Regions from separate parts of the Homo sapiens genome. Here regions 2, 3, 4 and 5 are each linked to region 1. Evidence: fine-mapped expression QTL. A gene starts in region 1. Each other region holds a variant in brackets. All regions are shown on one strand. Distances are between the middles of the regions. Region 1 holds the start of HABP4 (hyaluronan binding protein 4). Region 2 overlaps CDC14B (cell division cycle 14B). Region 3 overlaps HABP4 (hyaluronan binding protein 4). Region 4 has its middle 8.0 kb from the start of ZNF367. Region 5 has its middle 37 kb from the start of ZNF510.

Region 1 (5,107 bases):
ATAAATGGAAATTAATGAGCTGTTTGCTCCTGAAATAACACATACTTGAAAAAGAACTTGAATGATAAAATTTCCGTTCTAACTACAAAATCAACTAAATACCTTTAGTTGATTTCAAAAGCCAGATCACTTAGACCTAACAACTGACAGAAAAAAAAAGTTACGAGTGTACTACATGACAACATCAAGTGCAGGAAACAGGTTGCAACCCAGTTTATATCATTTAAGTTTAGAAAGAAAAGAAATAGCTCTGTGCATTTATGTATATAAATGCAAAGTGTTAGTAGGAAAAATAAGAGGATTTTCACTTAACCTCATACATTTTGGAATTGCTTAAAATTCTTAACACAAAAATGCATGACAATTTTAAAAAGGCTAAAAATCAATGTATTAACAGCACTAACTCGTCTCACGTTTTTCTGAAGCACAGAATTTTTTTTTTTTTTTTTTTGTGACGGAGTCTCGCTCTTTCTCCCAGACTGGAGTACAGTGGCTCGATCTCGGCTCACTGCAAGCTCCGCCTCCTGGGTTCACGCCATTCTCCTGCCTCAGCCTCCCGAGTAGCTGGACCTACAGGTGCCCGCCACCACGCCCGACTAATTTTTTGTATTTGTAATAGAGACGGGATTTCACCGTGTTAGCCAGGATGGTCTCGATCTCCTAACCTCGTGATCCGCCCGCCTCGGACTCCCAAACTGCTGGGATTACAGGCGTGAGCCACCACACCCGGCATTTTCATTTGTTAAAAAATAAAGGGTGAAGAAAAGCTTAGCCTTCCTCAATTCCTTTATTATATTGATGTAAATAAGTTTAAGAGAAAAAGATAAAAAACAGGATATAAAATGCACAATGTATCTCCAGTCTCACTGTTTAGATAGGCTCAGAAATTTACTGGCCTACCAAAGTGTCGTGAGATAGTAAATAACATTTTTTTAAAAATCATTTTCAACATCTTTATTGTAGTGACTTGATTCTCAAGTGATGACTCTGGATTTAGCTTTTCACAAATAAAGGTAAACATTACCCAGCTGCACATCAAAGCCCTAATACTTAAACCTGAGACGTTTCCTCAGGGCTGCGATGCACAATTTTTATCAAGCAAGGAACAAACCAATAAAGCCAAGTTGAACACACTGGCAAACGTCGGCAGGAATGGTCAACCTACACATCTTAATCCTAACACTCTGCAAACCTTGGGACCGCTGCCTCATTTCAAGAAAACAGGAAACACAGGTGGAGTGTTGCTGGCTCTGCCACTGACGCAGTTCGGTGAGAGAATGAACTCTGAAGCACCCTCCCCGTCCACAGGCAGCAGGACACCACGCTGCGCACCGGTTTTTCTTGCTAAATAGGGAGTGGGGAACTCCGAATATTCTTGCTGGAAAGGTTAAAAACGCTTTTCTTAAAGCAGCCTTGAGCTATTTATAAGTTGCACATCCCATCAACACCACACGAAGTACTGAAATACGATGCCGGCTGCCTCCTGGAAGCTACCGGACGGAGAAGGGGCGAAGGCGCCAGGCCGGACCGCGCCGGGGACCCCCGCCCGGGCCCCGACGTCACAGGCCGCCCCGCGGTCGCCCAGGCCTCCGGCATCACAGAGGCCCCCAGCCCCGGGACCAGGCGCCCTCCTCCTCCCCACCGCGCTCTCGGGTGGCTCCGACCTCAATCTTGCAGAGGCTGGGCTGGAAGATGAAGGTCCCCGCCAGGTCTGGATGTGGGAGCCCCGGGGTAGCGACCTCAGCCGTTCGCCCCCACACGCCACCCAGACAACCTCCCTCAACTTCGTCCAACTTGCCGTAGAGCCTCAGTGCCAGGGTTCGAGGGCCCTATCCCACCCCAAGCCAGCGTTTCCCCCGGAGCCCCGCACGAGGCTGGCGAGAGCTGGAAGGGGTGTGACCCCTGCCCCTCTCCTCCTACCTTCGGCGGCCACCAGGACCCTCAACTCTCCCTACTGTTCCCGGGCCCCTCCTCCTGAAACCGGCCCCCGGGACCCCAGTCTCACAGCGGGCCGAGCCGTGGTCCGCTAACCCCGCTGTCCCCGCGTACCCGGCGCCTGCAGGCCGCCCCCGGGGCTATCGGGCCGCTGAGCGACGGGCGCCGGGAGGCTCTTGCGCTCCTTCTGCGACTCCCTCCGGCCGCCCGCGCCGGCTCTGTGGCCCGAGGCCCCGGCTGGGCTCCTGCCGCCGCGGGGACCGGCCCCGGCCGCCGCCGCCGCCTCGTCGCGCCTCTTGCGCTGCAGCTGCTGCTGGCGCCGGCGCTCGGCCTCGCGCAGGATGTCGAACGGGTCCGACTCGTCGTCCAGCAGCTGATGGAAGCGGTTGGCCACCACGCAGCCGAAACTCTCCTGCATCGCGGCGCCAGCGGCAGCCACGGGACTCCCCAGAGCGCCCTTCATGCCGCCGCGACCACTGCGGGCCCGGGAGGGCAGCCCACGCGAGCGCGTCTCAGCGAAGCCGGCGGCCAGGACCCATGCCGCCCGCTCCGCCGCCACCGCCCTCCGGGCCCTACCCTGTCCGGCCCCTACCGGCGCCCGCCCCCGCGGCGCCGCCGCCGTCCGCCCCGCTGCGCCAGACAGCCAGTCAGCGCGCGCGGGTGCGCCCCCTTTCCGACACGGCGCGCCTGGAGACCCAATCACCGACCGGCTGCTGTCACGTCACGCGACCTCTGGGCCCCGCCCCGTTCGCTCAGCAGGGAGGGGCGGGGCCCAGGGGCGGAGCTACTGGCTGGTCCAGGCGGCGCCGACGAAGCGGTGGGGTCTCGGCTGTGTGTGCTTTCTCCCGGGACTGCGACCGTATTTGCTATGGGCCACTCTGCTTTGAAGCTTATGTATACATTTAGCCGTGCAACAGCTACATATTGCGCACTTACCGTGTGCCAGGCATTATGTTGTAGGAAATACTAGCTCCGTGTTGTCACAGATCTGAGTCTGTAGATGGAGAAAAAGTGCCCTGAAGGACAGGCGCAGAGCTCTCTACGGGCTGCAGCAAAGGGATCTGACCTAATTGGGAAATGACAGTTAAGCCGAGGGAGAGGGGTGACAAGGGGTTGGAGGAGGAACAGCAAGTGCAGCAGTCTTGAGGTGGGATGTGCACAGCCTATTCAAGCTCAAAGTGGTCTCTATTCTAAGAGCAGTGGGAAGCAAGTTTTGAGCATGAGCAGATTTGGGTTTGAAAAGGCCACCCTACCTGCACTGTGAACTAATAGTTTGGAGGGAAATACAAATGGATGCTGGGAAGCCAAACATGATTGTTGCAAAGCTCCAGGGAAGAGTTGATAGTGACTGGGATTAGGATGGTGGCGGTGGAGGCGAAGAGAGTAGATGGATTCAAAGACTTGGTGATGCGCTAGAGGTGGTGATGAGGGAGAAGAAGATACGGTGACTCTTATTTTCCTGGCTCCAGCATCTGAATGATAGTATTAGTTACCACTGGAAGACACTACTTTAACGGGAATCATTAATTCAGTCTGGGACACGTTGAGGTTTGGATATTTGTTTTCTTTTGAGATATTCAGTTGAGGCCTGGAGCTTAGAGAACGCCGGACTGGACTTCCTCCAGGAAATCTTTGCATAGGCAGCGGTGGAGACACGCTTGGCTGCCTATCCTACAGCCGTTCTTTCCCTCTTACATTTTTCCAGAGCCTGTATTTTGTTCAGGCATCATATTCCCCAGGGGAAGAGGGCCCCTTCCAGCCTCAAACTTGATTAATCATACATTATTCATTGCACCTGATTCCAATTCCTTGCCAGTAATTGGCTTAGGAATAGGCTGTGGGGCAAATCGGGCAGAACAGATCTGAGAAGTATTCTGGGAAAGTTTTTCTTGCACCTAACAAGGGATTGAGAAGGGATCTCCCCCCCTTCTGTTCCCTGGTCTTTGTTCCATGAGAAGACATGATGCCTCGGGTGGCTGTTCCTTAGCGTGGCCATGAGGATGGCAGAGCAGGATAGAGAAAGGCTAGATCCTTGATGAGGTTGAGCTGCCGACTGGACCCACTTGGGAACCTCCCTACTTGAGGCTTATGATGTAAGGTGACAGATGTGATTGCGCTTAGTTGTGTTTGCTTGTTTCATCCGAAAGCATCCAGTTAGAGCATCTTGCCAGGTGCTCTGTGACCAGCTTTTACTTTCCTTAATAGCAAAGGAATTCCTAATCCTAAATGCTGTAAAGTCTGTGTGTTACTCACTTATTGAATTTTGTGTTATTCCCAAGGAGGACAGGGATGATGCCTGTCTTATTCACTGCAGTATGTATTCCCAGTGCTTGGCGTTCTAAGCAGCTATAGAGTAGGTTTTCAGTAAATATTTGTTGAATGATTGAAGAATTTAAGATATTTGGTCATCTCCTTTTGAGTGAGCAAAGATTAATGCCTACGCTTTCTACCCAAAAGAATTAAAAGCAAGTGTTCAAACCAAAACTTGTACATGAGTATTCATAGCAGCACTATTCACAATAGCCAAAAGACAGAAACAAATAATATACATGTCACCCGATGAATGGATAAATAAAATGTGGTACAAAAAATATTATTTGGTCAAAAAGGAAGTATTGATACTTGTTACAACAGGGATGAAACTTGAAAACATTGTGCTAAGTGAAAGACGGACAAAAAGGGCCACACGTTGTATGATTCCATTTATATGAAATGTCCAGAATCTATAGAGACAGAAAGCAGATTGGTGGTCACCAGGTGTGGGGGTTGGGAGTGTTGGAAAGTAACTGCTTAATGGGCATGGGAGTTTCCTGTGGGGTGATGAAATGTTCTGGAACGAGATAGTGGAGATGGTTGCACAAAATTGTAAATTTAGTAAATGTCACTGAGTTGTACACTTTAAAATTGTAAAAATAGTAAATTTTGTGTAAAATTTAGTAAAAATAGTAAATTTTTTGTAAAAATAGTAAATTTATCTTAATGAACCAGAGTAAAAATAGTAAATTTATCTCAATGAACCAGAATCACTACATGCAACAGAGACCACACTTTGAGAAGCACTGCTTCAAGCTAAAGTTATCTTTGGTATCTTTAAACTGCTCATCACCAAACCACAACACCAAGGAATCATGATCATGTGAGAGAAGGGCCTGTCGTCTTCCCACTGGGCATC
Region 2 (5,107 bases), 97 kb before region 1:
ATTTTTAGTAGAGAATGGGGTTTCACCATGTTGGCCAGGATGTCTTGATCTCTTGACCTCATGATCCGCCCGCCTCAGCCTCCCAAAGTGCTGGGATTTCATAAAGTGTGGCCTGTGAACTGGTGCCGATCTGTGACATTTTGTTACCAGCCTGTGTTGAGATAAATACAGAAGTTGAGAATAAGATTTTAGAAACATTTATAGTTATCGAATAGAGCAATTTTATGTCTGTAGAATCAAATAGTAGAAGAAATTTGAGCTTGTATTTTGTTTTTTTTCCCCTTTCATTTTTCTAGTAATTTATTTTATTCACAAAAATAAGATTATTGCATTACTGGATATGTAATAGTATAGTACTATTGCATTTCATATTTATCTTACAAAAGTGTCAACCTGTGATAGACTTAGTTTTTAAATTTAGTGCTTCTTCACATAGTGTTCTATAGAACTTATCAATTAGAAAGTAGTCCAATCAGAATTAATAAAGCCTGATAATATTTTGATAGAAATGACATTATATTCTTTGTATCTTGCCACTTTAAGTACATAGAATAAATATGACCAACAAAGTATTGCTAACACGACGTTGTGCAAGAATGGCATTCATTTATAGCAAATAAGTTCTTTTATGTTCTGTAGCAATGTTTTATTTAATTAGATTTAATTCAACTTAGATAGAATTCTCTCTCTCTCTTTTTTTTTTTTTTAAAGACAGATTCTTGCTCTGTCACCCAGGCTGGAGTTCAGTGGCGCAATCTTGGCTCACTGCAACCTCTGCCTCCCAGGTTCAGGGAATTCTCATGTCTCAGCCTCTAGAGCAGATGCCACCATGCCCGGCTAATTTTTGTATTTTTAGTAGAGATGGGGTTTCACTAAGTTGCCCAGGCTGGTCTCAACCCCCTGGCCTGAAGTGATCCGCCTACCTTGGCCTCCCAAAGTGCTGGGATTACAGGGGTGAGCCACTGTGCCCAGCCTTCTTTAACCACTGAGTTTTAAAGTGTGTGTGTATGTATGTGTGTGTGTATGTGTGTATATGATTTCTTATTGAGTTATATTAAATATTTCTCTGTGTCTGGTCTGCATAATTAAATAGTATAAAATATAGTTTAATTTTTTTTAAATATCATAGGATCATTGTTATGAACAGTGTGTATTTCTGTTCTCTGGTATTATCTGTTATAATACTCTTTGCTTCTTAGTTGTTTTTGTGTGTGTGGGGCTTGCCTCTGCTTCCTGTTTTCTTGAGAGGTAGTATTGTATATTTGTTAATAGCTTGACTTGACATCAGACAGATGGGAGTCTTGCTGTCAGCTCTGCTACTGACATCTCTGTGGTCCTTTACAGATTTGAGCCTTGGTCTCCTAGTCTTTAAACAGAAACAATAGGCTGGGCGCTGTGGCTCACGCCTGTAATCCTAGCACTTTGGGAGGCTGAGGTGGGCAGATCACAAGGTCAGGAGATCGAGACCATCCTGGCTAACACGGTGAAACCCCGTCTCTACTAAAAATACAAAAAATTAGCCAGGCGTGGTGGCGGGCGCCTATAGTCCCAGCTACTCAGGAGGCTGAGGCAGGAGAATGCTGTGAACCCGGGAGGCAGAGCTTGCATTGAGCTGAGATGGTGCCACTGCACTCCAGCCTGGGCAACAGAGCGAGGCTCCATCTCAAAAAAAAAACAGAAACAGAAACAATAATACATTCTCTCTCAAGGAGTTGTGAGGATGAAGTGACATCCTGCATATAAAACACTTGGTATAGGCTGGGCATGGTGGCTCATGCCTATAATTCCAGCACTTCGGAAGGCTGAGGCAGGAGGATAGCTTGAGGCCAGGATTTGGAAGATCAGCCTTGCAGCATAGCAAGACCATTTCTCTTTGGGGAAAAAAAAATTAGCTGGGCAGGGTGGCATGTGTCTGTAGTCCTAGCTACTTGGGAGACTAAGGCAGGAGGATCCCTCAAGCCTAGGAGGCTTCAGTGAGCTTTCATTATGCCACTGCACTCAGCCTGCACAACAGAACAAGACCGTATCTTTTTTTTTTTTTTTAAGACAGACTCTCGCTCTGTCACCCAGGCTGGAGTGCATTGGTGTGATCTCGGCTCACTGCAGCCTCCACCTCCTGGGTTCAAGCGATTCTCCTGCCTCAGCCTCCTGAGTAGCTGGGATTACAGGTGCCCGCCACCACACCTGGCTAATTTTTTGTATTTTTAGTAGAGATGGGGTTTTGCCATGTTGGCCAGGCTGGTCTTGAACTCCCGACCTCAGGTGATCCACCAGCCTCGGCTTCCCAGAGTGCTGGAATTACAGGCATGAGCCACTGTGCCTGGCCAAGACCCTGTCTCTTAAAAAAAAAACAAACACTTGATATAGTACCTGGCCTTTAACTAATATTTGTTAAATATTCCAACCTTCCCCCTTTTAAGTTGACTGTCATTTAGCTACTTTTTTTTGAGTCGGAGTCTTGCTCTGTCGCCCAGGCTGGAGTGCAGTGGCACGATCTTGGCTCACGGCAAGCTCCGCCTCCTGGGTTCACGCCATTCTCCTGCCTCAGCCTCCCAAGTAGCTGGGACTACAGGCGCCTGCCACCACGCCCAGCTAATTTTTTGTATTTTTAGTAGAGACGG[G/A]GTTTCACTGTGTTAGCCAGGATGGTCTCAATCTCCTGACCTCATGATCCTCCCGCCTCAGGTTCCCAAAGTGCTGGGATTACAGGCATGAGCCACCGAGCCCGGCCATTTACCTACATGTTTAAAAATCACTGTCGTGGCCGGGCGCGGTGGCTCACGCCTGTAATCCTGCCACTTTGGGAGGCTGAGGCAAGTGGATCACCTGAGGTCAGGAGTTCAAGATGAGCCTGGCCAACGTGGTAAAACCCTGTCTCTACTAAAAATACAAAAATTAGCAGGGCATGGTGGTGCACACCTGTAATCCCAGCTACTTGGGAGGCTGAGGCACGAGAATCACTTCAACCTGAGAGGCGGAGATTGCAGTGAGCTGAGATCGTGTCATTGCACTCCAGCCTGGGCGACAAGAGCGAAACTCCGTCCCCACCCCACTCCCCGCAAAAAAAAAAAAAAATTCTCTGTCTCCTAGATTTCCCTCCCACCCCTTTCCAGTCAGTCATCACCCCCAGCTAATCATTGCTCTGACTTCTACCACTATCAGTTTTGCTTGCCTTTGAACTTGATATTACTGGTATGCATTTTGGGGAGCTGTCAACTGGATTTCACATATGTAATGTCTATGAGATTTACCTGTGTTGTGGAAGGTATCAGTAGTTCATCCTTTTTTATTCCTTTTGTAGCATTCCAGTCTATGAGTATACCACAATTTATTTGCCTGTGGTCCTTTTGATGGATATTTGGGTCATTCGTAGTTTTTGGCCGTGGTGAATACGAGCTGTTACGAAAGCTGCCATTCTTTAAAACTAGTATTTGACATTGTTGTGCAGTTTCTAAGCAGTGCCCATTTATTGATTCTTACGTGTTTTCCAAATTTGTTAAATGATCTTGGTGACAAGGATCCCTCCCCACTGCCCAAGGCTTATAAACTGAGCCTCAGAGTTGCTGTTCTGCCTATTGGAAGAAGGCTGAATGCAAGGTGGGAGGAAGATGTGATGTGGGTGTGTCTAAAATTGGAGGTGCTAATGAAATACACTTGAGTGAGCAAAGATTCTTGTCGTATATTCAGATTCTATGATGTATGAGGCAGGACTTCAGCAGGGCCCAGATGAAAGCGTGTGAAATCATCACAGATTGGAGCGGGGCTGTGCCCCACAGTAGGTTCTCAAAAAAAAAAAAAAAGCATTGAAGAAATTTGCCAAAATGTCACAGAGACTGAATCAACATGTCTTTAACTTGATTGGAAAAGATTATCAGTAGGTTAAGAAGATAATCAAGCCAGGCGCAGTGGCTCACGCCTATAATCCCAGCACTTTGGAAGGCCAAGGTAGGTGGATCACGAGGTCAGGAGATTGAGACCATCCTGGCTAACACAGTGAAACTCCATCTCTACTGAAAATACAAAAAAATTAGCTGGGCGTGGTGGCAGGCGCCTGTAGTCCCAGTTATTTGGGAGGCTGAGGCAGGAGAATGTTGTGAACCCAGGAGGTGGAGCTTACAGTGAGCCAAGATCGCGCCACTGCACTCACTCCAGGGGGAGACTGTCAAAAAAAAAAAAAAAAAAGAAAATAATCATACTCCTTCACAGAGAAGACATGGTTAAAATCATTGGGATCCAACTTGAGGGTTTACCCCATTTCCATTGATAATTTTGATTTGATTTAGGCTAAAGTACTTCATTTTCCTGCCTTAGTTTCTCTACCTAAATGGGTTCTTTATTCCATGAACACCCTATTTCTACAAAACCAGGATTTGTGTTGATTTGTAGGTTGGTGATTCATAAACTTGAACACAATCACAGACAACTAGAGGACCTGTTAAGACACAAATTACCTGGCCCTATCCCGAGAACTTTGATTCAGTAGATGTGGGGTAGCCCTGAGAATTTGCATTTCTAACAGGTGGGGTGGTCCTGGTGCTGCTGGCCTGGGGACCACTGCTGGAAGTCCTTTTGTTTTTTTCTTTCTGAATATTGCCAATAAAGTGTTGGTAAAATCGTGGCCTTTTAGGTTAAAGACTTTTTCTAGGATGTGGAAGAGAAGTTTTTCACTTCAGAACCTTACAGAACAAAAATGGTGTGTTCTAAGACCTTGTGTTGGCTGAACGCAGTGGCTCACACCTGTAATCCCAGCACTTTGGGAGGCTGAGGCAGGCAGAGTGCTTGAGCTCAGGAGTTCGAGACCAGCCTGGGCAACATGGTGAAACCCCAACTCTACCAAAAAATACGAAAACTTAGCCAGGCCTGGTGGTGTGCACCTTTGGTCCCAGCTACTCCAGAGGCTGAGGTGGGAGGATCGCTTTAGCCCAGGAGGTCAAGGCTGCAGTGAGCCATGATTGCACCACTGCACTCCAGCCTGGGCAACATAGTGAGACCGTGTCTCAAAAAAAGAAAACAAGACCCTGCATTCTGTCCTCATGAAGGTTCGCATAGCTCAGTAATTCTAAGCAGCTCAGTCAGTAACATTGAAGACGATTTTAGCTAAAAAGGATGC
Region 3 (5,107 bases), 31 kb before region 1:
AAAAAAAAAAAGAATGCTTTATGAATTCTAGATACAAGTCCTCTTTAGTTGAGACAAATGACCACCCTCCCCCCAAAAAAGGCAAGGATCTGAGTGAACATTTTTCCAGAGAAGATATACAAATAGGCAGTAAGATGTTGCACATCATTAGCTATTAGAGAAAGACAAGTCAAAACCACAGAGCTGCACCAGTCCACACCCAGTGGGATGGTTAGAACCAAAACGACATTTGACAAGCGTTGGGGAGGATGTGGAGAAACTGGAACCCACATACACTGCCAGTGGGAATGTGAAATGGTGTAGCCTCTTTGGAAAGCAGTCTGGCGGTTCCTCAAAAATCTAAGCTGAGTTAGCCTCTGACCCGGAAATTTCACTCCTGGGTTTATACCCAAGAGAAATGAAAACACACATCCACATGAAAACTTAAACCCAAGTGTTCACTGCAGTGCTATTCATAATAGCCAAAAAGTGGACACAACCTAAATGTCTATTAACTAATGAGTGGATAAACCAAATATGGCACATTTTTTGGAATATTATCTGGCAATAAAAAGAAACAAAGTATTAATACACATTACGACATGAACAAACCTTGAAAAAATGATGCAAGTGAAATAAACCAGGCAGAAAAGACTTCTGTGTATGATTCCATTTACATGAAATATTCAGAGGAGCCAGATTCACACAGACAGGAGGCAGGTCAGTGGTGGCCAGGGCTGCAGGGAGGGAGGATAGGGAGTGACTGCTGAATGGGCATGGGGTTTCCTTTTGGGATGATAACAACCTTCTGGAGCCAGATCATGGTGATGGTTGCATAACACTCTGAATGTACTAAATGCCACTGAATTGTACACTTTAAAAGGATTAAAATCGTAGATTTGAAAATCATCACAAAAATACACACAAAAAAAGAAAAACAGAAATGAAGACTGGCACATGCTACAACATGAATGAAGCTGAAAACTTGATGCTAATAGTTAAAATAAGCCAGGTGCAAAAGGAACATTGAACGATTCCACTTAGATGAGGCACCTAGAATAGGCAAATTCATAAACACGAGTAAAATAGAGATTACTACATGCTGAGGAGAAATGGGGAGTTAGTGTTAAATGGATATAGAGTTTCTGTTTGTGATGAAAAAGTTCTACAAGGCCAGGCACAGTGGCTCAAGCCTGTAATCCTAGCACTTTGGGAGGCTGAGGCAGGCGGATCATGAGGTCAGGAGTTCGAGACCAGCCTGGCCAATACGGTGAAACCCCGTCTCTACTAAAAAATACCAGAAAAATTAGCCGGGTGTAGTGGAATGTGCCTGTAGTCCCAGCTACTCAGGAGGCTGAGGCAGGAGAATCGCTTGAACCCGGGAGGTGGAGGTTGCAGTGAGCCGAGATCGCACCACTGCACTCCAGCCTGGACAACAGAGTGAGATTCCATCTCAAAAAAAAAAAAAAAGTTCTAGAGATGGATGGTGGTGATGGTTACACACAATATGAATGTTACTGATGCCATTAAATTATATATATTAAAATGGTAAAAATGGCAATTTTTATGTTATTTTTACTGCAATTTTAAAAAATTAATAATGTAACATACCCCAAACCATCCATCCATGCATTCAGTCGTTTACTCATTTATTTGTTTGATACAGGCTGGGTTTCACTCTGTTGGCCAGGCTGGAGTACAGTGGCATGATGATGGCTCACCATACCTTCAACCTCCTGAGCCCAAGGATCCTCCCACCTCAGCTTCCTGAGAGTAGCTGGGACTACAGGTACGAGCCATCAGGCCCAGCTAATTTTTACAACCATTTTGTAGAGACGGGGTCTCTCCATGTAGCCCATGCTGGTCTTGAACTCCTGGCCTCAAGCTATCCTCCTGCCTCTGCCTCCCAAAGTGTTGGGATTACAGATCTGAACCA[C/T]CACACCTGGCCTATATACTTAGAGATTTGAGTGCTATAGTACGAGAATTATATCTCAAAAGTGTTTAAGGGGAAAAAACAGGCCGGGCGCGGTGGCTCACACCTATAATCCCAGCACTTTGGGAGGCCGAGGCAGGTGGATCATGAGGTCAGGTGTTCAAGACCAGCCTGACCAACATGGTGAAACCCCGTCTCTACTAAAAATACAAAAATTAGCTGGGTGTGGTGGCACACGCCTGTAATCCCTGTAATCCCAGCTACTCGGGAGGCTGAAGCAGGAGAATTGCTTGAACCCGGGAGGCGGAGGTTGCAGTGAGCCAAGATGGCACCACTGCACTCCAGCCTGGGCGACAGAACAAGACTCTTTCTCCAAAACAAAACAAAACAAAACAGTAGGTGGGGAGTGGGGAATCAAATCTGTATCTTCACTGAAGAGCTGATGTAATTTAAGGTTCTATTATAGAAATACACAGATCAATGTTATGAAAAATATAAGCAAAATCAGTAGAGAAACCTAACCACAGAGCATCCAAAATAGACAAATTTGCAGTGACTCTACAATACCAAGCTGATGGTAGAAAAAACATCAAAGCAAAGATAACATGAAGGAATATGAAAGAACTTTCTGGCGTGATTGGTAATGTTCTGTATTCGACAGGAGTTTGGATTCCACAAGTACATGCATTTGTCAAAACAGTGAATGTACACTTAAGATTTATACATTTCATAGTATATACATTTTATATCAGAAGAAAAAATTGTAAACAAATATTAATTCTATTTAGTGATATGCATGTTGAACTATTTAGGGGGAAGTGTACAGATGTCTACAATTTATTATGAAATGTGTCAAAAAACATGGACTAATGAATACTTATGTAAAATGAATATATAAGATATAAATGGTAGCATTTAGGTAGTGGTAAGTATAGATGTTCGCTATAAAATTCTTTAAACTTTGCTGTGTTTTGAAATTTTCACAATAAAATGCTGGAAAAATACCAATATCAAAATATAGATCTCAAATATATATTGGCAAAAATATTAAAAGATACTAAGACATTGGAACAGCAAATTAATGGAAATAACCCAAACCTATCTAGAAAAGAACTTGGTGAAAAAACTATAGTATAGCAGCTAAAAAAGGAATGAGGACTATCTGTATATACTGCTATGGAGCACCTTCCAGAGTGAATGAGAAAAAAGCAAGGAGGGGTGTACAGTACCTTGGAGAGCCACACAAATATATATGCATAGCACCGATAGAGATAGATAGTTTTTTTGTTTTGTTTTGTTTTGAGACAGGGTCTCACTCTGTCACCCAGGCTGGAGTGCGGTGGTATGATCTCTGCTCACTGCAACCTCCACCTCCTGGGCTCAAGGGATCCTCTCACTTCAGCCTCCAGAGTAGCTGGGACTACAGGCATGCACCACCATACCCAGCTAATTTTTGTATTTTTTGTAGAGACTGGGTGGGGGAGGGTCTCACTTGTTGCCTAGGCTGGTCTCAAACTCCTAGGCTCAAGCAATCCACCCACTTTGGCCTCCCACAGTGCTGGGATTACAGGCATGAGCCACCGCACCCGGCCAGCATTTTTTTTAAATTGGAATATAAGCCAGGAAAACAATAGGGATAAAAGCTATTTGAAAATACCATGTTTTGGCTGGGCACGGTGGCTCCTGTCTGTAAACCCAGCACTTTGGGAGGCCAAGGCCAGTTGATCACCTGAGGTCAGGAGATCGACACAGGCCTGGCCAACATGGTGAAATCCCGTCTCTCCTAAAAATACAAAAATTAGCTGGGCATGGTGGCAGGCACCTGTAATCCCAGCTACTCGGGAGGCTGAGGCAGGAGAATCGCTTTGAACCCGGGAGGCGGAGGTTGCAGTGAACTGAGATTGCATCACTGCACTCCAGGCTCGGCAAGAGTGAAACTCCATCTCAAAAAGAAAAAAAAAAAATCATGTTTTTCAGACTGAACTTTGGAAACATGTAAATATTTTACATAATTATAAAACAGATTTAAATTAAAATTCAATCTCTAAAATTTGAAAGTAAAATGAATCAAAGTAACCTAAATGTTTATGAAACTGGTGATATAACCATCAAGAGAACTATTTCAAATGATTTTGAAATACAAATTTGATTACTCATCTCCCTCCTCGACATAACTTTTCAGTAACTGTGTTACTGAAGGTAATGTTGGTAATGCTGTGACTGTTTTATGTGCAACAAATGATTAAAAGCACAATGTTACTCAGAACTAGAATTTTCAGTATGTAAGAAAAGGAGAAACAAGCAGTCTAGGTAAAAATCCCATATCTTAACTTCGAATTGGAAATATTGAATGAACTCATATTTTATCTTATAATGTGTATGTGTGTATTTCCCATCTCTGTCCACCCAAATGCCCTGGAAACAATCAAGTCCCTGGTGGCAGTGGTTCTTTATCAAAGCAGCTTTACTAAAGAATACAGATGGGAAATACCACACAAAAAATGCTCAACATTATTAGTCATTAGGGAAATGCAAATTAAAACCACAATGAAGCTAGACACGGTGGCCCACATCTGTAATTTCAGCACTCCAGGAGGCCGAGGCAGCACTTGAGGCCAAGAGTTGGAGACCAGCCTGGGTACCAAAACGAGACCCCATCTCTACAAAAAGTAAAAAATAAGCTGGACATCAGGAGGCTGAGGTGGGAGGATCATTTGAGACCAGGAGTTCGAAGTTACAGTAAGCTATGATCACACCACTGTACTCTAGCCTGGGTGACAGAGCAAGATCTTGTCTCTAAAAAAAGAAAAAAAAAAAAACGATGACAACAAAAACCCATAATGAGATATGTACCTATTAAAATGACTGAAAGTTATAAAAACTGACCATAGCAAGTTCTAGCAAGGATGTTGGAAAAGAGTTCAGCAGCTTCTTACAAAGTGAAATATACGCATACCATTTGGTCCAACCATTCCACTCCTAGGTATTTACCCAGGAGAAATGAAAGTGTATATCCATATAAACACTTGTATATTAAAATGTTCAGGACGGGCACGGTGGCTCACGCCTGTAATCCCAGCACTTTGGGAGGCCGAGGAGGGCGAATCACAAGGTCAGGAGTTCGAGACCAGCCTGGCCAACATGGTGAAACCCCGTCTCTACTAAAAATACAAAAATTAGCTGGGTGTAGTGGCG
Region 4 (5,107 bases), 24 kb after region 1:
TACATATATACATATATATACATATATATACATATATACACATATATACACAATATACATACATATACATATATACACATATACATATATATACATATATACACATATACATATGTACATATATACATATATACATATGTACATATATACATATATACATATATACATATATATACATATATATATGTAGTCTGTGTCAGAGCTGGAAGAAGTGGATATTCAAGACGTTTTTAATGAGCCTTGTTCCTTCACTAACTGAGGGTGAAATATCTGAGTTGGTTCTGAACCAAGGTGATCGTGATAACAGTGACAGTGAAGATGATGATGTTAACACTATAGAAAAAGCACCTATAGAGGACCTGGTGAAAATGTATGATGGGCTTATTGAAAACTAGGGCAGTGTGCATTCACAACCAAACAAGAAATCATGTCAATTCATAAAAATCAAGAGAGACGTCTAAGACAGAAACTGGCCGGGGTGATGGCTCATGCCTGCAATCCCAGCACTTTGGGAAGCCGAGGCGGGTGGATCACCTGAGGCTGGGAGTTCGAGACCAGTCTGACCAACATGGTGAGACCCCGTCTCTACTAAAAATACAAAATTAGACAGGCGTGGTGGCACATGCCTGTAATCCTAGCTACTCAGGAGGCTGAGGCAGGAGAATTGCTTGAACCTGGGAGGTGGAGGTTGCAGTGAGCCAAGATCGCGCCATTGCACTCCAGCCAGGGCAACAAGAGTGAAATTCCATTTCAAAAAAAAAAAAAAAAGACAGAAACTGTTGTTAATGAGGCAGATGATGCTGAATGAAACATTTTCAAAAGCCATCCAGCAGATGCCTCCTCACCCCTATGGGACCCACTTCCTGATCCTTTAACTGCTACTGATGTTTTTTTTTTTCACTGAAAAAAAGAAGATACAGTGTACAGCCTTTCAATCAAAAGGTAGTATCATAGGTAGAGACCAGAAGCTGCTGTTGTTTAGCCACTGATGCAGGTATCTGGTGATGCTATCTTGGGTGCCCTGAACACATTATTTTTTCACTGCATTAATGAAATGTCATATTTTTTACTGGTAAGTACGTATGTGTGAGTTTAAGAAAATGATTGGTTATTGGTATCATATAAATGCAGAGTCAGGAAGCATGGGGATGTCCACATTGGTGGCTGAGATAGTGACATCTTCGCCTCTGATGGTTCAACATACACACACCTTTATTTTTATTTAAAACGTTGTATACAATTACCTTCAGGCTACGTGTATAAGGTGCACATGAAATGTAAATTAACTTCATGTTTAGATTTAAGCCTCATCCCCAAGATATCTCATTATGTATATGCAAAAATTCCATAATCCAAAAAAATCTGAAATCCCAAACACTTCTGGTCCCAAGCTACCTGGGAGGCTGAGGCAGGAGAATCGCTTGAACCTGGGAGGTGGAGCTTGCAGTGAGCCGAGATTGCGCCAGTGCACTCCAGCCTGGGCGACAGAGCAAGACTCTGTCTCGAAAAAACAAAAAACAGAAATCAAACAAACAAACAAAAACCCAGGCAAACAGACTGGTAGAACAGAATGTAAAGTTAGACCCAAATACATATGGAAACTTAGTATATGAAAAAGGTGGCATTTCAGATCACAAGGATAAAGATAAATTTTTAAATAAAGTCATGTGATAAAAATTTCATGAATGAAGTCAAAAGACAACTGATGACAGCTTGGGAGAAAATATTCACAACATATACTACAGACAAAAGGGCAATGTTCTCATATATATAGAATTCTTAAAAAAAATTAAGAGACAGCTTGGCACGGTGGATCACGCCTATAATCCCAGCAGTTTGGTAGGCTGAGGTGGGTGGATTGCTTGAGCTGAGGAGTTTGAGGCCAGCCTGAGCAACAAGGCGAGACCATGTCTGTATCAAAAAAGATGCAAAACTTAGCTGGGCATAGTGTTGTGCACTTGTAGTCCCAGCTATTTGGGAGGCGAAGGTGGGAGGATTGCTTATGCCCGGGAGGTTGAGGCTGCAGTGAGCCATGATTACACCACTGCACTCCAGCCTGGGTAACAGAGTGAGTGCAGCTGCTTTGGAAAAGTTAAGTCGGATCCCCAAAATGTTAAACCCACGGCTGCTCTATGACCCAGCAATTCCACACCTAGGTATAACCAAAAATAAAAATAAAAACATATATCGACATAAAAACAGACACACGAATGTTCACAGCACCACTGTTCATAATAGGCAAAAAGTGGGAGCCACTTAAATATCCATCAAGTGATGAATAGATAAGCAAAATATAGTATAGCTATACAATGAAATATTATTTCTCCGTAGAATGGAGAAAGGATTCTCCATTGGCGCCCAGCCAATTTCGTAATTCTGACCAATTCGGAATTATGAAAAACAAGGGGCTGGGTGTGGTGGCTCACGCCTGTAATCCCAGCACTTTGGGAGGCTGAGGCGGGCGGGTCACGAGGTCAGGAGTTCGAGACCAGCCTGGCCAATATAGTGAAACCCCATCTCTACTAAAAATACAAAAAATTAGCCGGGCTTGGTGATGGGTGCCTGTAATCCCAGCTACTTGGGAGGCTGAGGTGGGAGAATCGCTTGAACCCGGGACACAGAGGTTGCAGTGAGCCGAGATGGCACCATTGCACTCCAGCCAGGGCAATAGTGTGAGACTTTGACTCAAAAAAAAAAGGAAAAACAAGGAGCCACTGAGCCACTGAAGAACTGTTACTCACTGCAGGGAACTAAGGACAAATAATCCCTAAATGCTATGTAAGATCCAGACAGGATCTTGGAACAGAAAAAAAGACATTAGTGGAAAAAAAGAAAAAGATTAAAATAGAATAAGGGGTGTAGTTTAATAAATAATATGGTACACATGTTAATTTCCTGGTTTTGATACGTGGTTGTGGTAATATAAGATGCCAGCATTAGGGGAAGTTGAGTGAGGTATG[T/C]GTGAAAAATTTACTATTTTTGCAACTTTTCTGTAAGCCTCAAATAATTCAGAGTAAAAAGTAAAAGACAGAATATCAGAAAAACAACAATAATTGTACTGACAACCCACTCTCCAAAGTTGACCTCTGACACACAGAAGTGAGGAGGAATAGAATTTAAACTAAAAATGTCTATGTCCTTACTTACCTTAATTAAATGGCAATAAACATGATGAAATACCACAGTGGAAAGTCTTCCTGGATGTAAAATGTACTGACTACCTTTGGCACAAGCTTACAACTAGGGCACTCGAGATACCCGCAGATCCTAAGTGTGATAAAACGGGAAGCTGTCCCAAGAGTCAGTTCAATGACCTCTTATAAGACTTAAGTGCTTCTTGAAAGTATTATGAATCTGCTGTCCTAATTAAACTGCTTCATTTAAATCTACTTTGGATTTTATTCTAACAAGTCAAATTAGTATAATTTACAGTGTAGAGCCACATATTATTTTAAAGTTGATTCCATATCCAGCTGATAATTGATCATTGTGGGTCTAAGATAATGAAACTGATGTTTTTGTGGAGCATAAGAGAACCAATATTAGTACCTCACAGTCACTCAGTCAGTTAGTCATTTTCTTTTTCCTTTCTTTCTTTCTTTTTTTTTTTTTTTTGAGACAGAGTCTCCCTCTGTTGCCCAGGCTGGAGTGCAGTGGTGCAATCTCAGCTCATTGCAACCTCCGCCTCCTGGGTTCAAGCGATTCTTCTACTTCAGCCTCCCGTGTAGCTGAAACTACAGGTGTGCGCCACCACGCCTGGCTAATTTTTGTATTTTTAGTAAAGATAGGGTTTCACCATGTTGGCTAGGATGGTCTTGAACTCCTAAACTCATGTGATCAGCCTGCCTCGGTGTCCCAAAGTGCTGGGATTACAGGCAAGAGTCACCTGGCCCACTCAGTCACTTTCAAGATTACAGAAGGGTCAAATGGTCCAACCTCCAGATCCTTGAAGACAGTGGGGGTGTCAAGGAATGCTTAGAAGATGGGTCAGTCCCCCAAATCACCACCTGTGTCACCAAAAGCAATTCCAGAGGTGAGCAATAATAGTAGAATTCATTTGTAGGAGTAACAGAAACTTTCTCAATCTTGTGTAAGTTTTGCAAAAGTATTTACTATTTACTATTTTGTATTGGTACATAACTTATACTTTAAGTAAAAACATCATGCTTGTAGTTAGGCTCCATGGAGTCCCAGCTACTTAGGAGGCTGAGGCAGGAGGATTGCTTGAGGCCAGGAGTTTGAAGCTGCAGGGAGCTATGATGTGCCTGTGAATAGGCACTGCACTCAAGCCTGGGTAACATAGTCCTCATCTCTTAAATTAAAAAATTATATATATATGTACATATATACACACACACATATATATATGTACATATATATACTTGCTATGGAAAGATAGTTTCAAGGCAAGTCCTTGGGACAGCCTTCTGAATCGGACTGTCATTCCCAAGCTGTCTCACTGACAATTCTGGAGGCCCAAAGTCCCTATATTACTAGGAATGTGGTGATCTCAGGTTGAAGGAGGTTTGGTAGGTTATCCCTAATGTGGTTAAGCAGCTAAAAATGATTTGTTTATAGTTAGTCAAGTTATCTGTTAGCCAAGAAGATTTTACCGTGCTCCCATGAGGGGAAGACTACCTTATCTGAGGTTTACGTGGGCCCCAAGTTTAAAGTTTGGGTGATATTTTAGTCCTCTTGTTACAAAATGTCTTTTGTGGGACTCAGTCACATAGCAGGGCCTGTGCAAACTTGCAACTGTGCCCTGGAGCAGCGGTCTCCAACCTTTTTGGCACCAGGGACTCGTTTTGTGGAAGACAACCTTTCCACAGATGGAGAGAGGAAAGGGAATGGTTTTGGAGTGAAACTGTCCCGCCTCAAATTACCAGGCATTAGATTCTCAAAAGAAGCACACAACCTAGATCCCAGATCCCTCACATGCGCAGTTCACAACAGGGTTTGTGCTCCTATGAGAATCGAAAGCCACCGCTGGTCTGACAGGATGCAGAGCTCAGGCAGTAATACTTCTTTATCGCTGCTCAGCTCCTGCTGTGTGGCTGGTTCCCAATAGGCCACACAGTCCACGGCCCGGGGGTTGCAAACCTGTGCC
Region 5 (5,107 bases), 290 kb before region 1:
CAGACACTCTTAACTTGTTGCATAGCACTCTGACCCCTGAGATGGCAATATCATACATCGGAGTGGCTGTGAAATGGAACATGGGGGTTGAACATAATAAATGTAAGTTTCTTGGAGGTCACTTCTGAGCAGCAGATGAAAATTGTAGTAGTCCATTCTCACACTGCTGAGACTGGGTAATTTATAAAGGAAAGAAGTTTAATTGACTCACAGTTTTGCAAGGGAGGTCTCAGGAAACTTACAATCATGGTGGAAGGGGAATCAAACACGTCCTTCTAATTACATGGTGGCAGGAAAGAGAAGAATGAGAGCCAAGTGAAGAGGGAAGCCCCTATAAGACCATCAGATCTTGGCCAGGCGCGGTGACTCACACCTGTAATCCCAGCACTTTGGGAGGCCGAGGCAGGCAAATCACTTCAGGTCAGGAGTTTGAGACCAGCATGGCCAACATGGTGGAACTCTGTCTCTACTAAAAATACAAAAATGAGCCGGGCATGGTGGCACAACCCTGTAGTCCCAGCTACTCAGGAGGCTGAGGCGGGAGAATCGCTTGAACCCAGGAGGCAGAGGCTGCAGTGAGCTGAGATCATGCCACTGCACTCTAGCCTGGGTGACAGAGCAAGACACTGTCTCAAAAAAATAAATAAACATTTTTAAAAATAATAAAACCACCAGATCTTGTGAGAACTTATTATTATGAGAATAGCATGGGCGAAACTGCCCCCATGATTCAATCATCTCCCACTGGATACCTCTCACCACACATGGGGATTATGGGAACTACAATTCAAGATGAAATGTGGGTGCGGACACAGCCAAACCATATAAAAAAATTATAGGTAATAGGTAACTAAGTTATTAAATATTTAGAAATTTTGAAAACAGCTATGCACTATCTTCCCAGAAACCTGCACATATAACAGAAAGTTATTCATGAGCTTCCTAGGGGTCTCTCCTGAGCAAAAGTTCTTGACAATTTTGCATCATTAGAGTAGCAATCATTTTGAAAATGTGACAAAAACCATGAATCTTCATGCCAGAAGTATGCGCACACCCACCTACAGCCATAAATTTGAATATCTCAGGCAGCTAATGAATTCCCTGTAGCTCATTTATGGGACTCAAGTTAGCAGTGGGCTGCAGGTGGTTCTGAATGTTTATTGCCTAGTTACCTGACACTAAAAACTGTGCTCAAGAGGGCAGAGTAAGGGGCTCCACAATGCAGAGGAGCCTAAACTGATAAAGAAGCAAGCAGCTATTTATCCTGGCAACACTCCCTAAGTTCCCTCCATCTATGTGGTTACACAGCTGGGTTGTCTGTCACTCTGTCAGGTCACATATGGTTGATAATAGTTAGACACTTATTCACTTAGTCAACTAGACAGGCAGCTAAGATACAGTATCATTCTTTCAAACAACAGACAGGAAAGAAAAAGGTGTGCTGGGTGAGTGCTGAAGCGTGAAAATGCTCCTCATCTGCAGAGTCACCACACGCAGCAGTGTGGAAACCCTGCGGAAACAGGCTGCCTATGTGCCTGTAGTGACATAAGGAGCCTAAAGAAGGAGGTGAGCAGGAAATCTAATTCCTCCAGGGTCTCCAGGTGATCCTACCATTTGTTGGAACAAAAGTTTAGACACAGGTAAAAAAGATCTATAAAGCAGAGAGGGGGGAAAAAAAGGAGCATTAAAAACATTTAGGGCCCGGAAAACATTCCCTAGTGGGTGATGTGGTACTGGGTGGGGAGTATTCTCTGGACATTGGTCAGCACAGAGGGAAACTAGGAAAGGCCTGAGCCCCATATGGCTAGACTGTGTCTCTGGGTTTCCACAGAAGGAATCTAGGCCAGTGCATTGAATTGGTTATACCTATGGGCACCTGATTGAGACAAAATTAAATGAAATTCTAATCACAATCTTAAAGGATTTCTTAAGAGGGGCTTAGAATTCTAAACATTGTAAGGAAAAATCAAAATTATCAAAACAAGTACAAGAATGGTTTGGTAAAAGCAAAAAGATACCAGAAACATGACAAAAGGACACAGGAACAATTTAAATGCCCCACAGGCTTCGTCTCAGATGATTTGAGAATAAAAAACAAACAACCATACTAGCTAAGCATTATAACCCACTGAATACAGAAAGCTGAATCTATACAGACATAAATAAAAATAAATAATAAATGCTGGAAAAAAGAAAACTATTTTCTATACCATGATAAACACGTGAGGAATAATGGAACTAAAAATAACAGGTTTTGCGACTGTGGTAATAAGTGACTTGGGCAATGATCAGGAGTAAACACTAAAAGTAATGAGTAGTGACTTGAGGATTGAGAGGATACATGCATAGCCTGAACATATCTCCTCACAAGATTTTTCTTCTAATTTTGTTAGATACAAGGTCTTGCTTTGTCACCCAGACTAGACTGCAGTGCCGCCATCATAGCTCACTGCATCCTCGAACTCCTGAGCTCAAGCGCCTGTAATCCCAGCTACTCAGGAGGCTGAGGCAGGAAAATTGCTTGAACCTGGGAGGCAGAGGTTGTAGTGAGCTGAGATCGGCCACTGCACTCCAGCCTGGGTGACAGAGGGAGACTGTCTCAAAAAAAAAAAAAAA[G/AG]AAAAGAAAAAAGAAAAGAAATCTCAACACTTCTGTTACTTATGCTGTATGTCTACAAAAGGTAGATAACCTAAATGTAATCACAAGGCAACATCAGACAAATCCTGTCATTTACCAGATGAGTAATGAAGAGTTGTGGGCAATAGCTAATGATCAGTCAGGATGTTGTCAGGGGTTTCTCCCATGAGGCTTTTGATATCGTTTGGGCGTCTGCCTCCTTCAAATCTCATGTTGAAATTTGATCCCCAATGTTGGAGGTGGGGTCTAGTGGGAGGTGTCTGGGTCATGGGGGTGGATCCCTCGTGATCAACTTGATGAGTGAGTTCTCACTCTATTAGGCTGCACAAGATCTGATTGTCAAAAAGATCCCGGCACCTCCCTTCTCTCTCTCTTTCCTCGTCTTTCCAAGTGAAGCCTGCTACCCCTCTTCCCCTTCTGTCATGGGTGGAAGCAACCTGAGTCCCTCACCAGAAGAAGATGCTGGTGCCATGCTTCTTGTACAGCCTGCAGAACCATGAGTCAAATCAACCTTTTATCTTTATAAATTACCCGGCCTCAGGTATTCCTTTATAGCAATGCAAATGGACTAAGACACATATCAACTTCACGCTTTTCAAGGAAGTCATATTCTTAGCTTGTATCAGCTGAGGGATGTCTAGGATATGTCAGTAACAAGTAGACCCAAACCTATAACAGCTCAGCAGAGAACAAGTTTGTTTATTCCTCATAAAAGGCTGCCAGAGAAGTAAGATGAGGAAACTGTTCCACACAGTGATTCTTGAACCTTGGCTCCTTCCATGTGGTATTTTTCATCTCTAGTATAGGAACAAGGAGAGCAAAAAAACATATAGAATGAAGATATCTCTCATAGGACTTGTTTTACCACTGAAATCCACATTCCACTACCCCATATAGATGGAAGAGTGGTTGTTGGCCTAGGGACAAAAGGAAATAGTTCTTGGTGAACACACAAGAATATGCAAACACGCAAGTAGGTGCCATAGGGGTCTCTTTTATTTACTTTATATATATATATATCACATTGTGTGGCTGCATTCTGGAAGAAGGATTTCCCACATCCATTACCTTCATATGATTTATTTGGTCTGGTTGATATACTATGAGGTCTCTACTGCTGCATACATTTTCTTTGAGATGGAGTCTTGCTGTGTCACCCAGGCTGGAGTGCAGTGGCACAATCTCAGCTCACTGCAACCTCTGTCTCCTGGGCTCAAGCAATTCTTCCTGCCTCAGCCTCTTGAGTAGCTGGGATTACAGGCACCCACCACCAAACCTGGCTAATTTTTGTATTTTTAATAGAGACGGGATTTCACCATGTTGGCCAGGCTGGTCTTGAACTCCTGACCTCAGGTAAACCACCCGCCTCAGCCTCCCAAAGCACTGGGATTACAGGCACGAGCCACTGCACCCAGCCTGTATACATTTTCTGTTGCACTGAGAAAGGTGGGTTTGAGCTGAGATTACCATACATTTATTACATCCTAGGTTTTCTCCATCGTTTAAATTCTCTGCTCAATGACGTTCAATCAAGGACAGAAAGCATCCATCTTTTCATTTCTTTCTCAGGATTCCTCCATAGTGTAAGTTTATAAGGGTTTAGTTCACATAGGATATTTTCTATATTCATTACCTTCATAGCGTTTCTTTCCTGGGTGAATTATCTGACTCCAATACGGACTAAGCTTATACTTAGTGGCTACAAGACTATCCACATGCAATACATTTCAAGGCTTTCCCTCCAGTGAAAGTTCTCTTATGTTGGCTGGGCATAGTGGCTCACACCTGTAATCCCAACACTTAGTGAGGCTGAGGTAGGAGGATCCCTTGATCCCAGGAGTTTGAGACCAGCCTGGGCAACATAGTGAGACGCTAAGAAAAACATTTTTTAAAAATTACCCAGGCATGGTGGTATGCACCTGAAACCCCAGCTGCTCAGGAGACTGAGGCAGGAGGATCACTTGAGCCTCAAAGGTTGAGGCTACAGTGAGCCATGATTGCATCACTGCACTGCAGCCTGGAAGAAGAGCAAGACGCTGTCTCAAAACAAAAAGTTACATGTTTAGTGAGAAACTTCCACGTTCATTTGGTAAATAGGTTTTCATCCCCTGTCTGAGTTCTCCAGTCTTTTCTTAGCTCTGACTTGTGGCTGAAAGTTGTCCTACATTCATCACCTTTATAGAATTCCTCCCATGAGTTCTCTGATGTTCTTGGAAGTGTGATTTCTGCCTAAAAGTACTCCAAGATCCATGACACCGGCAGGCCCATTCACATGTGTGAGTTCTCTGATACAGTGCAAGGTTTAATGTGTGGCTGAAAGCTTTTCCACACTCATTATGTTTATAAATTTAATCCCAGTGAGTTTTCTGATACTTTTCATGTTTTTACTTCTGGTAGAAATCTTCCCTACTACATCATATTTATAGGATTTCTTCATTGTGGGATTTATCTGATGGCTTTTTACAACTGAAAA

The links. PIP is the estimated chance that this variant, and not a neighbour inherited with it, causes the effect.
Region 2: its variant is the best candidate, but not a certain one, in a credible set for the expression of HABP4 in left ventricle (GTEx, PIP 0.57).
Region 3: its variant is the best candidate, but not a certain one, in a credible set for the expression of HABP4 in whole blood (TOPMed, PIP 0.85).
Region 4: its variant is the best candidate, but not a certain one, in a credible set for the expression of HABP4 in whole blood (INTERVAL, PIP 0.85).
Region 5: its variant is the best candidate, but not a certain one, in a credible set for the expression of HABP4 in whole blood (INTERVAL, PIP 0.56).

The regions. Positions count from the first base shown.
Region 1 is chr9:96,447,571-96,452,677 of GRCh38, reverse strand. It overlaps HABP4 (hyaluronan binding protein 4), which reads right to left and starts at 2,509. Exons shown (of 8, transcript NM_014282.4): 1 at 2,050-2,509. The coding sequence starts at 2,398. RefSeq lists silencers at 1,992-2,041, 2,122-2,181, 2,192-2,731 and an enhancer at 3,012-3,091.
Region 2 is chr9:96,544,402-96,549,508 of GRCh38, reverse strand. All of the region lies in intron 5 of CDC14B (cell division cycle 14B), which reads left to right. Among named protein-coding and RNA genes, the nearest start is that of CDC14B, 73 kb to the left of the region's middle. The variant G/A (reference allele first, on the strand shown) is at 2,622.
Region 3 is chr9:96,478,281-96,483,387 of GRCh38, reverse strand. The region is part of intron 5 of HABP4 (hyaluronan binding protein 4); the gene reads right to left. Among named protein-coding and RNA genes, the nearest start is that of HABP4, 31 kb to the right of the region's middle. The variant C/T (reference allele first, on the strand shown) is at 1,916.
Region 4 is chr9:96,423,820-96,428,926 of GRCh38, reverse strand. No RefSeq gene overlaps it. Among named protein-coding and RNA genes, the nearest start is that of ZNF367, 8.0 kb to the right of the region's middle. RefSeq lists an enhancer at 4,921-5,107. The variant T/C (reference allele first, on the strand shown) is at 2,961.
Region 5 is chr9:96,738,301-96,743,407 of GRCh38, reverse strand. No RefSeq gene overlaps it. Among named protein-coding and RNA genes, the nearest start is that of ZNF510, 37 kb to the left of the region's middle. The variant G/AG (reference allele first, on the strand shown) is at 2,617.